2 linked regions of the Homo sapiens genome follow. The protein of the gene in region 1 purifies or fractionates together with the protein of each later gene. This does not show direct contact. Each region holds a gene or a part of one and is shown on either strand. Other genes may lie near its edges.

Region 1 (7,025 bases):
GTACTCTCCAAATTGATCTACATATTCAGCAGATTCACTACCAAAATGCCAACTGCCTTTTTTGCAGAAATTGACATCCTAATCCTAAAATTAGGTAAAAGGCACCTAATAGCCAAAACAATCTTGAAAAAGAACAAGGTTGGGAGACCCATACTCCCAATTTCAAGGCCTACTACAAATCTACAAATCTTCGGTAATCAAGACAATGTAGTACTGGCATAAGGATACACATATAGATCAATGGAATAGAATCAATAGTGCAAAAACAAATGTTTACTTTTATGGTCAGTTGATTGTCAACAAGGGTAGCAAGATCATTCAATGGGGAAAGAGTAGTCTTTTCAAACAAACTGTGCTTGGACAACTGGACATCCACACATAAAAGAATGCAACTGGACCCCTACCTCACACCATACACAAAAATTAACTCAAAATGGATCATCCTCAATGTAAGAACTAAGGTATAATATTCAAAGGCAAAAAACAGGAGTAAGTCTTCATCATCTTGAGTTAGACAATGGTGTTTCGGATACATGCCAAGAGCACAAGTGAAAAAAAGAAAAAATAAATAAATTGGACTACCTCAAAATTTGAAACTTTTGTGCTACAAACAATGCTTTTAAGAAAGTGAAAAGACAACTGACAGAGTGGGAGAAAATATTTGCAAGTCATATATCTGATAAGTGGCTTGCATCCAGAATACATAACAAAATCCTACAACCCAATAATAAAAAGACAAACAACACAATTTTAAAATGGGCAAAGGATTTGAATAGACATTTCTCAATGCACACAAATGGCCAATATGCACATGAAAAGATGCTCAACATCGTTAGTCATTAGGGAAATGCAAATCAAAACCACAATGAGATGCTACTTCACACTCAGTAGGAGAGCTGTAATAAAAAAGACAGACAATAACAAGTTGTTAGCAAGAATATGGAGGAATTAAAACCCTCATGGCTTGTTGGTGGCAATGTAAAATGATGCAGCTGCTTTGGAAAACAATTTGGCAATTCCTCAAAATGTTAAATATAGAGTTGCCATATGGCCTAACAATCCACTCTTACGTATCTACCCAAGGGAAATAAAAACATACAGTCACACAAAAACTTTTACATGAATGTTCATAGCAGCATTGTTCATAATAGACAAAAGGTAGAAATAACTCAAATGTCCATTAGTGGATGAACAGACAAGCAAAATGGGGCATGTCCATGCAATGAAAAAATCACTGAGCAATTTAAAATAAGTGAAGTCCTGATACATGCTACAACAGGAACAAACCTTGAAAAGTTGCTGAGTGAAAGAAGCCAGACATGAAAGACCATAAATTGTAGGATTTCACTTGTATAAAATGTACGGAAAAGACAAATCTATACAGACAGAAGGTGAACGAGTGGTTACACAGGGCTGGAGGAGCAGGGATTAGAGGGAAATTGAGAGTGGCTAATAAAGGGTGAGGAGCTTCTTTTTGAAATGACGGAAATGATTTTAAATTGATTGTGGTGGTGGTTGCACAGCTCTGTGAATATACTAAAATCATTGAATTGAACATATTAAAAAGGTAACTTGTATGCTATGTGAATTACATCACAATAAAGCTATTTTTAAAAACGAATGACTTAGATCTATATGTATCCATCTAGATAAATCTCAAAAAAAAATGTAGAGGGAGAAAAACATGCTGAAAAAGGAAACGTACAGTATGACACCATTTATGTGAAATTTTAAAACAAAAGCCAATAGTATATATTGTTTAGGGAACTATACATTTTTAGTAAGACATAAAAACTTGGATGGAAAGGGTAGACTCAACCGCAGGATTTTCCCTCTCTGCCCTATAAATAATCTTTTTTAAAATTGATGGCTTAAACTTCCATTGTTTATGTTTAGCATATAAGGAAATATATATTTTTATATTCATAACCCCTTTCTTAGACAAAAGGTAAAATGCTATATATACTTTAGTGTACAGGACTTTTTTTTAACTTAATATATTCTAGAGGTCACTCCAGAGGAGTTGATAGAGCTGTTCCAGTGAGACTGCTTTATTAAGCTTGTTGGGGTTTATGTCTAAAAGGAGGAGGGCCAGAGATGGATGACTACATGGAGACGCTGAAGGATGAAGAGGACGCCTTGTGGGAGAATGTGGAGTGTAACCGGCACATGCTCAGCCGCTATATCAACCCTGCCAAGCTCACGCCCTACCTGCGTCAGTGTAAGGTCATTGATGAGCAGGATGAAGATGAAGTGCTTAATGCCCCTATGCTGCCATCCAAGATCAACCGAGCAGGTAACCTTAGGACCTCTTTGCGGGAGAGGGAGGGCTACCGCACACGGCAACTTCCAGACATACCCTTTGGTAGCTGTACCAAAATGAAGTTGCTCTAGGTCAGGGATTTTTAAACTGGGGTCCGCAGTCCATCACCTACTCATTTGTGTATAGAACTCAAGCTGTCTGTGTATGGAACTCAAAGGATCCATAAACTGGGAGGGGGGAAGAAATGCCATCTTTATTTTACCAACCTCAACTGCAATTCAGCATTGCCCTCAATTGCAAATGTCAGGAAGCCACAAATTACAGGAGTGATTAGTAATTCTTGTGACTTAGGCAACAATGAAAATTACAGATCTCTTCCTATCACTACAGTTACTGCAAATCTCTCAAAATGCCACTTACACTCATCTCTCTTTCAAAATTACAGTACTTATTAGACCTGCCGAGAGGTCTTGTTATTTAATGCATTAATAAAGAAGTATGTTACTGAAACACAAATTTATTTAATATTTGATAACTGGATTTTATTATAATTGGTTTCTTTTGTAATCTGATGTACTTTATCTGTTTAAAAATATTCCGAGAAGGGTTCCACAAGCTTTTCTAGCCTGACTTCTGGAGGGGGGGTTTATCATATTCAGTAAAGGTAATAAATATGGTTTGTGAAGCTTGTTTTAATTTTACATTATGTACATGTGTATACACATGTACTTGTAGAGTTATCTTTGTCTATGGTCACTAGACCACAATGTTAAATGTTTTTCTTTCTATGGATCAGTTTAGAAGGTTTGATAATCACTGTCCCCCAGCGTGGCTGGTGGTAAGTGGCTCATCAGCTGCGACTCTCTGGCATCCATGGCAGACATCAGTAATCAGCATGCTTTCCCACTGAGCTTGGATGTAACTTTGGAATGTTTCTCGAAACAGTACTGCAGGCGGCTTCACCAAACAATCGGGGTTGACATACCATCAAATTTATTTCTTCTGTCCGTCCTAGGGAAAAGGTCGAGTTTTAAGACCTACCTTTCTTCTTCTATATCTCAGAAGAATATCTGAAAATAAAATGTTTAAGGAAGGGCCCAGAAATGTAAGCAATAAGTGGAATCAATAGTATAGAAACTGGGACCTGCTGGGGAAATTACATTTAAGGTGTTTCCAGGTTGTGTAATAATCCCAAAGAAAAACCTAGAACTATCCCTACTTCCTATGATTTTTCCTAGCCTCTCACCCAAAGATTTGTCTTCCTGCTCTCAATCCCAGAGAACCATATATTATTCCATAATTTTTATCGTGCTTCCAACCTCCTTCAGTCATAGAAGACCTGGTGCCTACGTGGTTCATTTTGGCCCTGGTCAGTTGGGAAACTCTTCAAAACTGGGGCGGCAATTCCATTTATCCTGGTTCTACCAGTTTATTAGAAACAGAAAACTAACGCTCACCAAATCCCTGCGGAGGGCCTGGCACCTTGATTTACGTCATCTGGGCTCCAAGATACAACTCAGAAGTGATAGAATGTGGGGAGACTGTCTTCTTAGAGTTGATTGAAGGACACAAGTCCAGGATGAGACCAGCCACAGAGACTTGCGTTCCATCAGATATGTATTCTCACAGAGTGATCTGGTCTTTCCCCTAGGCCGGCTGTTGGACATTCTACATACCAAGGGGCAAAGGGGCTATGTGGTCTTCTTGGAGAGCCTAGAATTTTATTACCCAGAACTGTACAAACTGGTGACTGGGAAAGAGCCCACTCGGAGATTCTCCACCATTGTGGGTAAGTGCTTTTGCCATTGGGAACATCTGGACTCTAAGAGGAGGGGCGTGTGTGTGTGTGTGTCTGTGTGTGTGTGTGTGTGTGTGTGTGTCCTCAGTAGTGGCATGGTTCTTAAGCTGTGAATCTATGACATATAGAACTGGGGTCTGTCAACCACTTATTTTGCTTGATGATGAAAGGTTAACAGGGGCAAAGGGAAGCAGGAACCAAGAGAAGTGGGTGTTCACGGACCATCCCCCATGAATGGCGCCAGGTGGAACACAAGTTCATTCTACCCCGTAGATCTTGTCCTTGCCTTGCCTGCATTCTTTCTAGTGTCTCATGGGCCAGAGCCCTTGAGCATCTTGCCTTCTTAATCTTCCTTTCTAAACATTCTTGAATCAGTCTTCTCGCCCGCCCCAACACTTCCCACAGTCCAGACTCCCACAACCCCATTAACTCTCCATATCCATTCCCGATCTGTTCCAGTGCTTTCTCCATTCTTCCTCCCCTATTTAAAACCCTTTGGTGGTTTTTCATTGCTTCTTTGTAAAGACCCAGGTCTTGGCCAGGCACAGTGGCTCATGCCTGAAATTCCAACACTTTTGGAGGCTGCAGCCATAGAATTGCTTGAGCCCAGGAGTTCCAGGCTGCAATAAGCTATGATCATGCCCCTGCACTCCAGCCTGGGTAATAGAGCGAGACCCTGTTTTAAAATATAAAAAAAGTCCCAGGTCTTTAATGCAGCCCACAAGGACCCTTCATGATCCAGTCCCTGCTGACACCACCAGCCTCGCCTTTCTCTTCTCTCTCTCTCCTTCGGCCACTTTGGTCTTCGTTCAGTTCCTGAAATATGCCAAGTTCCTCCCTCCTCCCCATATGGCCTTGGCAATGTTGTTCCCCTTTCCTAGAATGCCTTTTCCCACCCGAACTTAACATTTTACCTCAACCATCAGGAGCCTTCTCCAACCCCCTCTGCCCACAAGGCTGGATCTGGGCCCCTGCTACACACTCTCATAGCCCCATCTACCTTTACTTTGTGAAATCCTCACGGTCTGTAATTCTATTTGTGGTATCATTTGATTTTTTTAAATGTGTTTCTCTTATTACACCCTAAGCTCTCCCGGGGCCAAGGCTGTGAGTCTCGCTCACTCTGAATCCCCAGTGCCTCGTGGGCAGAGTGAGTAAAGAGCTTGGCACAACGTTGGTGAGTGAGTGAATGAATGGCACCTGCCCTGCGTCTGGAACCTCCTTTTTCCACTTCCCAGTCCTCAGGCCTGACTGGGTGCCCCCTCTCCACAGTGGAGGAAGGCCACGAGGGCCTCACGCACTTCCTGATGAACGAGGTCATCAAGCTGCAGCAGCAGATGAAGGCCAAGGACCTGCAACGCTGCGAGCTGCTGGCCAGGTTGCGGCAGCTGGAGGATGAGAAGAAGCAGATGACGCTGACGCGCGTGGAGCTGCTAACCTTCCAGGAGCGGTACTACAAGATGAAGGAAGAGCGGGACAGCTACAATGACGAGCTGGTCAAGGTGAAGGACGACAACTACAACTTAGCCATGCGCTACGCACAGCTCAGTGAGGAGAAGAACATGGCGGTCATGAGGAGCCGAGACCTCCAACTCGAGGTGAGGGGTGCCCAAGGGCTACTCCGCCAGGGTGACCCGGGGGAAACAAATGTCACCAGGGCTCAATTCTCCCATAAAGCAGGTGCAGGCACATGCACGTGGTCTGCCGGAGCTTCCTGCCAGCCAGGTGTGGGGGAATGGAGGACACAGGGCCTCTGGGAGTTCTAGGTCCACTATGCACCTGCACGTGTACCCATAGTGCTTAGCGCTACCGGGTAAGCGGCCTACATCCCCTGTGCGCATGGGCAGACATGCGCACAAGGACCGACCCAGTGCGCAGCTTTCCACCACCGGCTCAGTCCCAGATCCACCTTGCACATGCGCATGCAGACCCAGAATGGCTCACTCCGCAAATGAATTAAGGAGATTTACATCTTCTTTTTTCTTTTCTTTTATTTTCCTTTCCTTCTTTTCTTTCTTTCTTTTTCTTTTCTTTTTTTTTTTTTTTTTTTTTTTTTTTTTTGAGACAGGGTCTTCCACTGCCCAGGCTGCAGTGGTGTGATCATGGCTCACTGAAGCCTTGACCTCCTAGACTCAAGTGATCCTCCTGTCTCAGCCTCCAAAGTAGCTGGGACTACAGGTGCCCACCATCACGCCAGGCTATTCTTTCAATTTTTTTGTAGAAAAGGGGTCTCGCTATTTTGCCCAGGCTGATCTGCAACTCCTGGGCTCAAGTGATCTGCCTCCCTTGGCCTTACAAAGTGGTGGGATTACAGGTATGAGCCACTGCACCCGGCCTCGTTCATTCTTTCTGTTTATTGAGTTCCATCGGGTACCAGGCTTTTTGTTTTTGGGTTTTTTGGAGGAGTTTTTTGGACAGAGTCTCACTCTGTCACCCAGGCTGGAGTGCAGTGGTGTGATCACAGCTCACTGTAGCTTTGGCCTTGCAGGCTCAGGTGATCCTCCCACCTTAGCCTCCCAAGTAGCTGGGACTACAGGTACATGCTATGCCAGCTAATTTTTTTCTATTTTTATCCTACCCACCCCCCTTTTTCTATTTTTAGTAAAGACAGGGTTTCACCATGTTGCCCAGGCTGGTCTTGAACTCCTGGGCTCGGGCAATCTGCACACTTGGCCTCCCAAAGTGCTGGGATTACAGGTATAAGCCACCACACCTGGCCCCCAGGCTCTTTTCCAGGGATACATAGCTGAAGACTAAAACCCTTCTGTCGTGGAACTAACATTGTAATCAGAAAACAAATGCATAGATACTTGGTAGAAATGAGTGCTATCAAGAAGAGAAGACAGGGCGTGAGGACAGAACATGAGGATTGCTACTTTAACTAGGGTGTCCAGGAAAGGTCTCTGAGAAGGAGACACATGAAGAGAGATCTGAAGGGATGAAAGGAGCCAACCATGCAAGTCT
Region 2 (7,707 bases), on another chromosome or scaffold:
CTAATCTTTACCATCTTGAAAGACAGGTGAAACTCATCTGCCTCTCATCAGACTTCCCACCCCAAATTCTCAGATTCCACAACTGCATGCCCTTTGTGCTTGCCACCTCTTGTTAGGCAACTGTCCCCTTCTCTCTGTGTGACTCCACAGAAAAGTGGCCTCAAATATTTCCTTTAGTTCCCCCAAACAAAGCTAAGACCATTTTGTAGCCTTTAACAAAAACTGACTGAAGGCAGGCGAGGAAAACACAACACCCAACATCAAGTATCCGCTGCTTTTGGATTCCAGCAGCCACGCTTCTTCCCTGGCAGGGCCTTGCTGACTTTCTTCTCTCTCCTTCATGGCCATGTAGGAGTCCTCCATACCTGGCTTTCTTCAGGAAGCCCAGAACCTTCCCTAACCAGAGTACTCGTTAGCACCGTAATACTCTGGAGATCTGCCCCCAAAGACAATTTTTTACATTATGGTAAGTCCAGAAATTCAAAATTTTATGTACCTAGCATAACAATATTTTGTATTTGTTTTTTTTGCATATCCAAAAGCCCAACGTGTTTTTCCTAGAACAGAAAAAAATTATGCCACTTCTCTGCTAGGCCTTGCTAGTTATTCCCTCCTCACATCATTACTCCTTTGCACAAGCAATAATCCCAAGTCACTATTATCCTTTGCCTCAATCCCAAACTCTGAAACAAGAGTTGTCAGGAGGGTTTAAGAAAATAATGTGGCCAGGCAGGGTAGCTCATGCCTGTAATCCCAGTACTTTGGAAGACTGAGGCGGCTGGATCACCTTAGGTCAAGACCAGCCTGGCTAACACAGCAAAACCCCGTCTTTACTAAAAATACAAAAAAATTAGCGGGCTGTAGTGGCGCACGCCTGTAATCCCAGCTACTCAGGAGGCTGAGGCAGGAGAATTGCTTGAACCTGGGAGGCGGAGGTTGTAGTGAGCCACGATCACACCACTGCACTCCAGCCTGGGCGAAAGAGCAAGACTCCATCTCGGAAAAAAAAAAGATAATGCAAAAATAAGAAGAATAAAGAAGAATGAAGCAGCAGCAGCAGCATGTAAACATTTAGTATATTTTGTGGTACATACCATGTCCTCAATAAAAGATAAAAATCCATTATCATTCATACCCAACACAGCATTTAATATGTTATTGTAAAGGTCCCCAAATAATAGTCCATTCCTGGATAAACCCTTATGATTAGGAATTGAATATTTGTTAGTTTTTTATCTTCTAAAATTTCTAGCAAATAATAAGCACTTAATAAATACCATTTTGAATGAATGACTTTCCTCTCATCAAGTATTTACTAACCTCTATACATAACAGAATATTAAGAGACAGTTTTTGTTCTTAAGGCATTTATAAAGATGTGTACAAATAATTATACTGTAAGACAAATCTTTGTCATTTGAGAAGTTCAAAAAACTGCTAAGGGGTTCAAAGGCAGGCCAAAGTTACAACAATGGTATAAAGTAATGGTTCTAAGTGGGGTCTGGGAACCCCTAGTGCAGTTCCTGAGACCCTTTCGCGGGGTCCACAAGGTCATAAAGATTTTTCATAACAATATTAAGACTTTATTTAGCTTTTTCATTCATTCTTTCAGGAGTGGACACTGCAGTTTCCAGCGTTCTGTGACCTGTAATAGTGCGACAGACTGAATGCAGAAGCACATAAACGAATCCAGCTCTGTGATTAAGCCAAGACATTAAAGAGATCTTCAAAATGAAAACCAATGCCACTTCTCTAATAGACTTTTTTGTTTTGGAAAATTTGTTTTTCCACGAAAGTATTATTTCTGTTACCATATAATGGGTTATTCTTTTTAAATAAATTAATATTTTTTAAATGTCTTAGCTTTAATTTCAAAGGTGGTAAATATCAGTATGTATTACATGTATGTATTATCTCTAACCCACATAAGAGCTCTCTGGGGTCCTCAATAATTCTTAAGAGGGTAAAGGAGTCTCGAGACCAAAACTTCAGGAACCCTAATACAGCCATTCCAAACCTAACAAGGAAAATAGTTTTACTTCGAGTTTCATGTTCATGGTGAAGTCAAGAAGAGAACGTGGTAACCTGGTTTGATGGAGGGAGATGATGAGTTCGGCGTCAGTCTTTCCCAATACCTTGCAAAATGTTCATGAATTCCTGCACCCCACCCTCTGCATTCATCACCTCGCCTGCGCTTCTTCCCAGCCTTCCTTAGGTCTCCCAGAGCAGTGTCCACATCCCTTTCTTTTGCATTTTAAGTCCTCTGGATGACTGCCCCATCCTAGGGGTCCCCTGACAGCTTTCCTTCTCTCACTATCCTCCGGGGTCAACCTCGACTTCTCCCTTTCACCAGGGGCGGGGGTGGGAACAGGGAGCGAGGCAGCCGCTGGGCCACTTTTGCCTCCACCCTCCAGAGCCCTGGGCCCCGCTCTCAAACCCCAGGCGTTCCGGGGAGCTGCTGAGTTCCGCTCCGCCTCAATGACCGAAGTCCTCCCCACCTCCGCTCACTCACGCCGGCGGCCCCCGCCGCGCTCAGCCCCACCGACAGCGCCCCCACCTCCCCACCGCAGCCCACCCCGCTCGACCCGCGCGCCCGGCCTGCCGCGGCCCTGAGCTCACCTGAGGCGGAGGCGCCCGCGACTCCCCGCCAGCTCCGCCAGTCTCCTCCAGCCCCGGCCCTCGGGCGCCTGATCCAGGAGCTCGCTGAGCCTCCGCAGCAGCGGCTCCCGCAGGCGGTTGAGGGTCGCGCCGGCCGGAGGGGCGAGCAGCGGCCCCGTGGGGGCGGCCGAGGGCGGCAGGGCCTGTAGCGGGTCCCCCAACAGCGACATGGCCCTCGCCGGCGACCCCGGACTGCCGGGGCTCCCGCCCGCCCCGTCACGGGCCTCGGCCCCGGGGCACCTTCCGCTCGCCTCCGAGCCGCGGAGGCAGGGGCGGAAGAACAAATCTGGCAGCGCGGCACGGCCCTCAGAGGAGGAAGCTCCGCTCCCCGCCCCAATTAGACAGGTTTGCCGAGGGGAGCCTGGCCTGCTGGCCGCGCCAGCCGCGCAAAGGGGCGGGGCACCCGGGGGGCGGGGCACGGAGCCTCGAGGGGCGGGACCTTGGGCCTCGAGGGGCGGGGCGGGGCTGCCTACTGCGTGCGTGCGGCTGCGCGCCTCCCTCGCCCTCCCCCGCGGTCCCGGGCTGGCCGTGGCGCGCGCTTCAAACCCAGCCCTCCCGAGCAGGAAAGGACGGGTGGGTGCAGCTGGAGGAGGAAGCGGTGGAGGAATTACGCCCCGGCAGCTCCTCTACGGCGGGGAAGCCTGCGGCGTCTGGGCTTCCTGAGACCGTGGGAGGAGGCCTGCGTACTCACGCCAGAGAGCGGGGCAAGCGGTTCTCAGTCGCCGGCTCCCGCCCGCAGTCCCCGGCGAGCGCTCTCCCCTGACTCAGGGACTTTCATGTGCCCGGCGACACACCAGCATCCTGCAGTGGGCAACCTCAGCGGACGCTTCCTCGTTTTAGGGTTAGATGTGTATGGCATTGCTAGAGGGAAGTAGTGCTGGAGATCCGGATACTTGAGTTGGAATTGGCCAAAATCTTTGCCTAGACTTTTAAACAATTACTACTTTGCAAACTGAGCTGTGGCATATTTAGGGCTAATCAGATCTTGGAAATGATTGTTTTTAGCAGGAATCATCTGGTTTACACCGCGTCAGACTGCCGCCCGCAATCTCCGTCATCAAAGCAGGCAACCCTGTAGAGGATGCCTTTCCCTGGAATGATCCGGAATGGACGACACCTGAGCTCTCTCTGCCAATCTTAGCAACATCCAAGGCCATTATCCCTTTGAAAACTATGGCTTCGTTTGGGACAAAAAGGAAGTAACTTACGAAATGTGACCAGTCAGGTAGTTCCCTACACGAGGCTTCCTGGCCCAATTTCTGTTGCCATTAGCTTTTCATCACCCAAGGCCGCAGGATTTTCTGACCAGTAATTTGGATACCTATATTCTTATACATGTTGGCGAGGTAGGTGCGCCATACAGTCTCCACCACATTCTAGCACAAGCAGTCATTAAACTTCACTCTAGCATAAGTTAAGAATTCAGACTGCAGTGAGATGGCTAAGAGCATGAAAGATCTGCTCGATTCAAGTGTTAGGAGCTTGAATAAGTTTCTTAATTTCTCTGCCTCATCTATTAACACAGGACTGACAATACAGTTTATATAGAGTTGTTGCCAGAATTAAAGGAGTTGATGTATGTGAAGCACTTAACTCGGTAACTGGCACATCGTAGATGACTCAGTAAATGCTATTACCCTTACACATACAAGTGCCGTTTCATACTCAGTTTGACTTGGCAAGCCTTTCCCAACCGCTTCAGGTGCCTTCCTGTTTTGTCCTCAATTACTGTACAAATATTTTCTGAGGATCTGTTACCTGCATGTGCCAATTATGGAAATAAAATCTTCTAGTCTTTACTGGAATCCTGCCTTTTAATTTAAATTCAACAGAGGTCTTCTAAATTTAGACTTCTTAGAAAAGTCTGCCATGTACAAAGCGTTGCTTATGCAACCTCTCGTGTGCATACGAGTTAAATGGGTGCCAGTGTTATTTACTCTTAGCCAATATAGCTCAGCTGGGCACTGTTTTGACCTCGAGTTGTACGCCCCCACCCTGGCTTCCCAAGTGACTGCCTCCCTCGTTTTACCCTACTCCCAACCTTTTTTTCCACCTAGCAATTTTATACCCTATCCAGTCACTACCCGCCACCCTCCATCCTCTACCCAAACTGACATTACCTTTTTTGACTGGTCTTTTTCTCTCCTCAATCAAATGTTAATATTTCTATGACATAATTTCACTCCTGTGGTTCTCTTATGGGCATAATGGTATAGTAGAATGTGACCTTTAAAGTTAGTCCTGAATTGGAAACTTGATGTTGCTGCCACTTACTAGTCTAGTGGTGGAACTTAGGTGATCTACTTAACCTCTCTGAGCTTCAGTTTCCACACCTGTAAAAAGTGGAAAATAATAGTACCTAATAGTGTTATATAGCGTCAGGGAGAAGTATGTGCATTGTATATTAGTACTCTTAAAACTGCTACATCAATTTTGGGAACAATGTAAATAGTAATTCAGCTTTCTTTTCTATATTAACCGTTATGTTTATATAAAGATAGGAGAAAAATTGGGGGTAAAGATCTGGCTTTTAAATGTCCCTTAAAAGTTCATGCATGTCTATAGATAATAGCCTTGGGAGTTCTTCCTCATTAGTTCAAAGTGAAATAGATCTTTGTAAATCCAGACAATTGGCAGGAAGCTTGTGGTTTCAATATATGGAACTCCATTGATGTAATCTTCAAAGCACTCATAGGTCTGGAAACTGACTCATAGGATTTTTTTCCTTTATACAGTTTAACTATAGATGGTACTCCAACTAAAAAAAAAAAAAACGCCAGAATGATATATTATTTCACAGTTGGACAGGGTTTAAAAGACTCAGTGCAGGAGAAAACCTGCTGGTCCTTGGATCTGTATACAATGGAGGGAAAGGAAGCAGGAGTTATGTGGCTTAAATGGCATTCATGGCCGAGCGTGGTGGCTCACACCTGTAATCCCAACACTTTGGGAGGCTGAGGCGGGCAGATCACGAGGTCAGGAGTTCAAGACCAGCCTGGCCAACATGGTGAAACCCCATCTCTACTAAAGATACACCAAAAAAAATTAGCCAGGCGTGGTGGCACGCGCCTGTATTCCCAGCTACTTGGGAGGCTGAGGCAGGAGAATCACTTGAACCCAGGGGGCGGAGGTTGCAGTGAGCTGAGATTGTGCCACTGCAGTCCAGTGTGGGCAACAGGGCAAGACTCTGTCTAAAAAAAAAAAAAAGGCATTCATTGTCTGCCATCCCTTATTCCATGCTCAGCCCACTTTGTGACCTCTCTGACTCAGCCTCTGTAGGAGCCACTCAGGTGACCCACAGACACAGGCTCAGCACATCCCCTGCAGCCCATTCTTGCCACCATCTTCCAAAGGATTAGGGAAATTTTCTCATTTCGATTTCAACTTTGTAATAGTAGCTAGGCATCATGCTAGTATTCCACACTCTTCCTTCATGATGAATCATCCAGACCTAAATATTTGATCCTGACCATGGAAAGTCTACACCTACTTGTCTAAATTGATTCATTCACTCAATCATTCATTCCGTCATGAACACATATTCTTGGGGCACCAGGCTCTGTATCAAATACATACTGTTAAAGAATAGTTTTTATTTGATTAATTTATTTATTTTGAGACGGAGTTATGCTCTTGTTGCCCAGGCTGGAGTGCAATGGCACGATCTCGGCTCACGGCAACCTCCACCTCCCAGGTTCAAGTGATTCTCCTGTCTCAGCCTCCTGAGTAGCTGGGATTACAGGTGCACACCACCACGCCCAGCTAATATTTTGTATTTTTAGTAGAGACGGGTTTCACCATGTTGCCCAGGCTGCTCTTGAACTCCTGACCTCAGGTGATTCACCCATGTCGGCCCTCCCAAAGTGCTGGGATTACAGGCATGAGCCACCGCGTCCGGTCTTAAGAATAGTTTCTACAAGAAAGTTTAAATCATGATGCAACAAATATGCAATGAACACATATCAGAGATTTTAACTCATTAACTAACAAGGGAATCAGAAAGGTGTTACAATTACTTCAGAGGAGAACCCAAAGACCAGATAAATATGTCAGCCCACTGAAATGAAGTTGCTTCCTAGATGCAAAACTAGCTTCTTCCACAGTGGAGGAGGGAATGCAATTGAACCTCCACCTGACAATTTATTTAATTATAAACAAGATTCACTTGCATCACTATCAGTTTTCTGTAAGTTCACTGCGATCTCAGAGTTGTAAAGTAGCCTAGTCATGAGACAAAGATAAAGACAACCCAGGCAGATGAGCTAGGCGGGATTCCCACACCACAGTTCGGTCTTCACCAGTTTTCCCTTAGAGTTTGCAGAATACAATGTTGACCAAACCCGATGTCTGCTTAAGACAAGGAACAGGAGGAGTAAGTGCTCTGTTGATAGCAAGAAGTATACAAATCCAGGGGAGAGCCCTTCAGTCCATGTGGAAAGATGAGAGGAGATGGCTTGGGAAACAGGGTAGAAAGAATACCATACTGTAGGCTGGCCGCAGTGGCTCACACCTGTAATCTCAGCACTTTGGGAGGCCAAGGCGGGTGGATCACGAGGTCAGGAGTTCAAGACCAGCCTGACCAACATGGTGAAACCCTGTCTCTACTAAAAATACAAAAATTAGCCGGGCATGGTGGCAGGCAGCTGTAATCCCAGCTACTCGGGAGGCTGAGTAAGAATTGCTTGAACCCGGGAGGTGGAGGTTGCAGTGAGCCGAGGTCGTGCCACTGCACTCCAGCCTGGGTGAGAAAGCGAGACTCCGTCTCCAAAAAAAAAAAAAAAAAAAAAAGAATACCATACTATAAAAGCACAGAGCCAGAAAACATCACAGCAAGGTTGGAGAACTGCAGTTGCTCCAGGAGAGCTGGGGATACTGATGGGAAAGGGACAGAGACCACGATGTAAAAGGCAGTGAAGACCAGATTATGTCATGCCAAAAGCTGAGATTTTATTCTGTAGATACATACCTACCACAGAGCCATCTATGCCCCACTGGTGTTATACAAGATGCTTTTAAGTCATAACATGGATGAACATTTTTATCTTAATA

Evidence for each region. The genes of interacting proteins can lie anywhere in the genome.
Region 2: the proteins of CARD11 (region 1) and MALT1 purify together in Homo sapiens (affinity purification with western blotting; 6 studies listed by BioGRID and IntAct, with this or other methods). This does not show direct contact.

What each region holds. Positions count from the first base shown.
Region 1 is NC_000007.14:2,942,846-2,949,870, reverse strand, and holds part of CARD11 (caspase recruitment domain-containing protein 11), read left to right. Parts: intron 1-2,083; coding exon 2,084-2,296; intron 2,297-2,783; exon of another isoform or gene 2,784-3,274; intron 3,275-3,914; coding exon 3,915-4,052; intron 4,053-5,333; coding exon 5,334-5,659; exon of another isoform or gene 5,660-5,836; intron 5,837-7,025. UniProt on the Homo sapiens protein: Adapter protein that plays a key role in adaptive immune response by transducing the activation of NF-kappa-B downstream of T-cell receptor (TCR) and B-cell receptor (BCR) engagement.
Region 2 is NC_000018.10:58,666,765-58,674,471, reverse strand, and holds the start of MALT1 (mucosa-associated lymphoid tissue lymphoma translocation protein 1), read right to left. Parts: upstream 3,008-7,707; 5' UTR 2,829-3,007; coding exon 2,620-2,828; exon of another isoform or gene 2,599-2,619; intron 1,860-2,598; exon of another isoform or gene 1,613-1,859; intron 1-1,612. UniProt on the Homo sapiens protein: Protease that enhances BCL10-induced activation: acts via formation of CBM complexes that channel adaptive and innate immune signaling downstream of CARD domain-containing proteins (CARD9, CARD11 and CARD14) to activate NF-kappa-B and MAP kinase p38 pathways which stimulate expression of genes encoding pro-inflammatory cytokines and chemokines.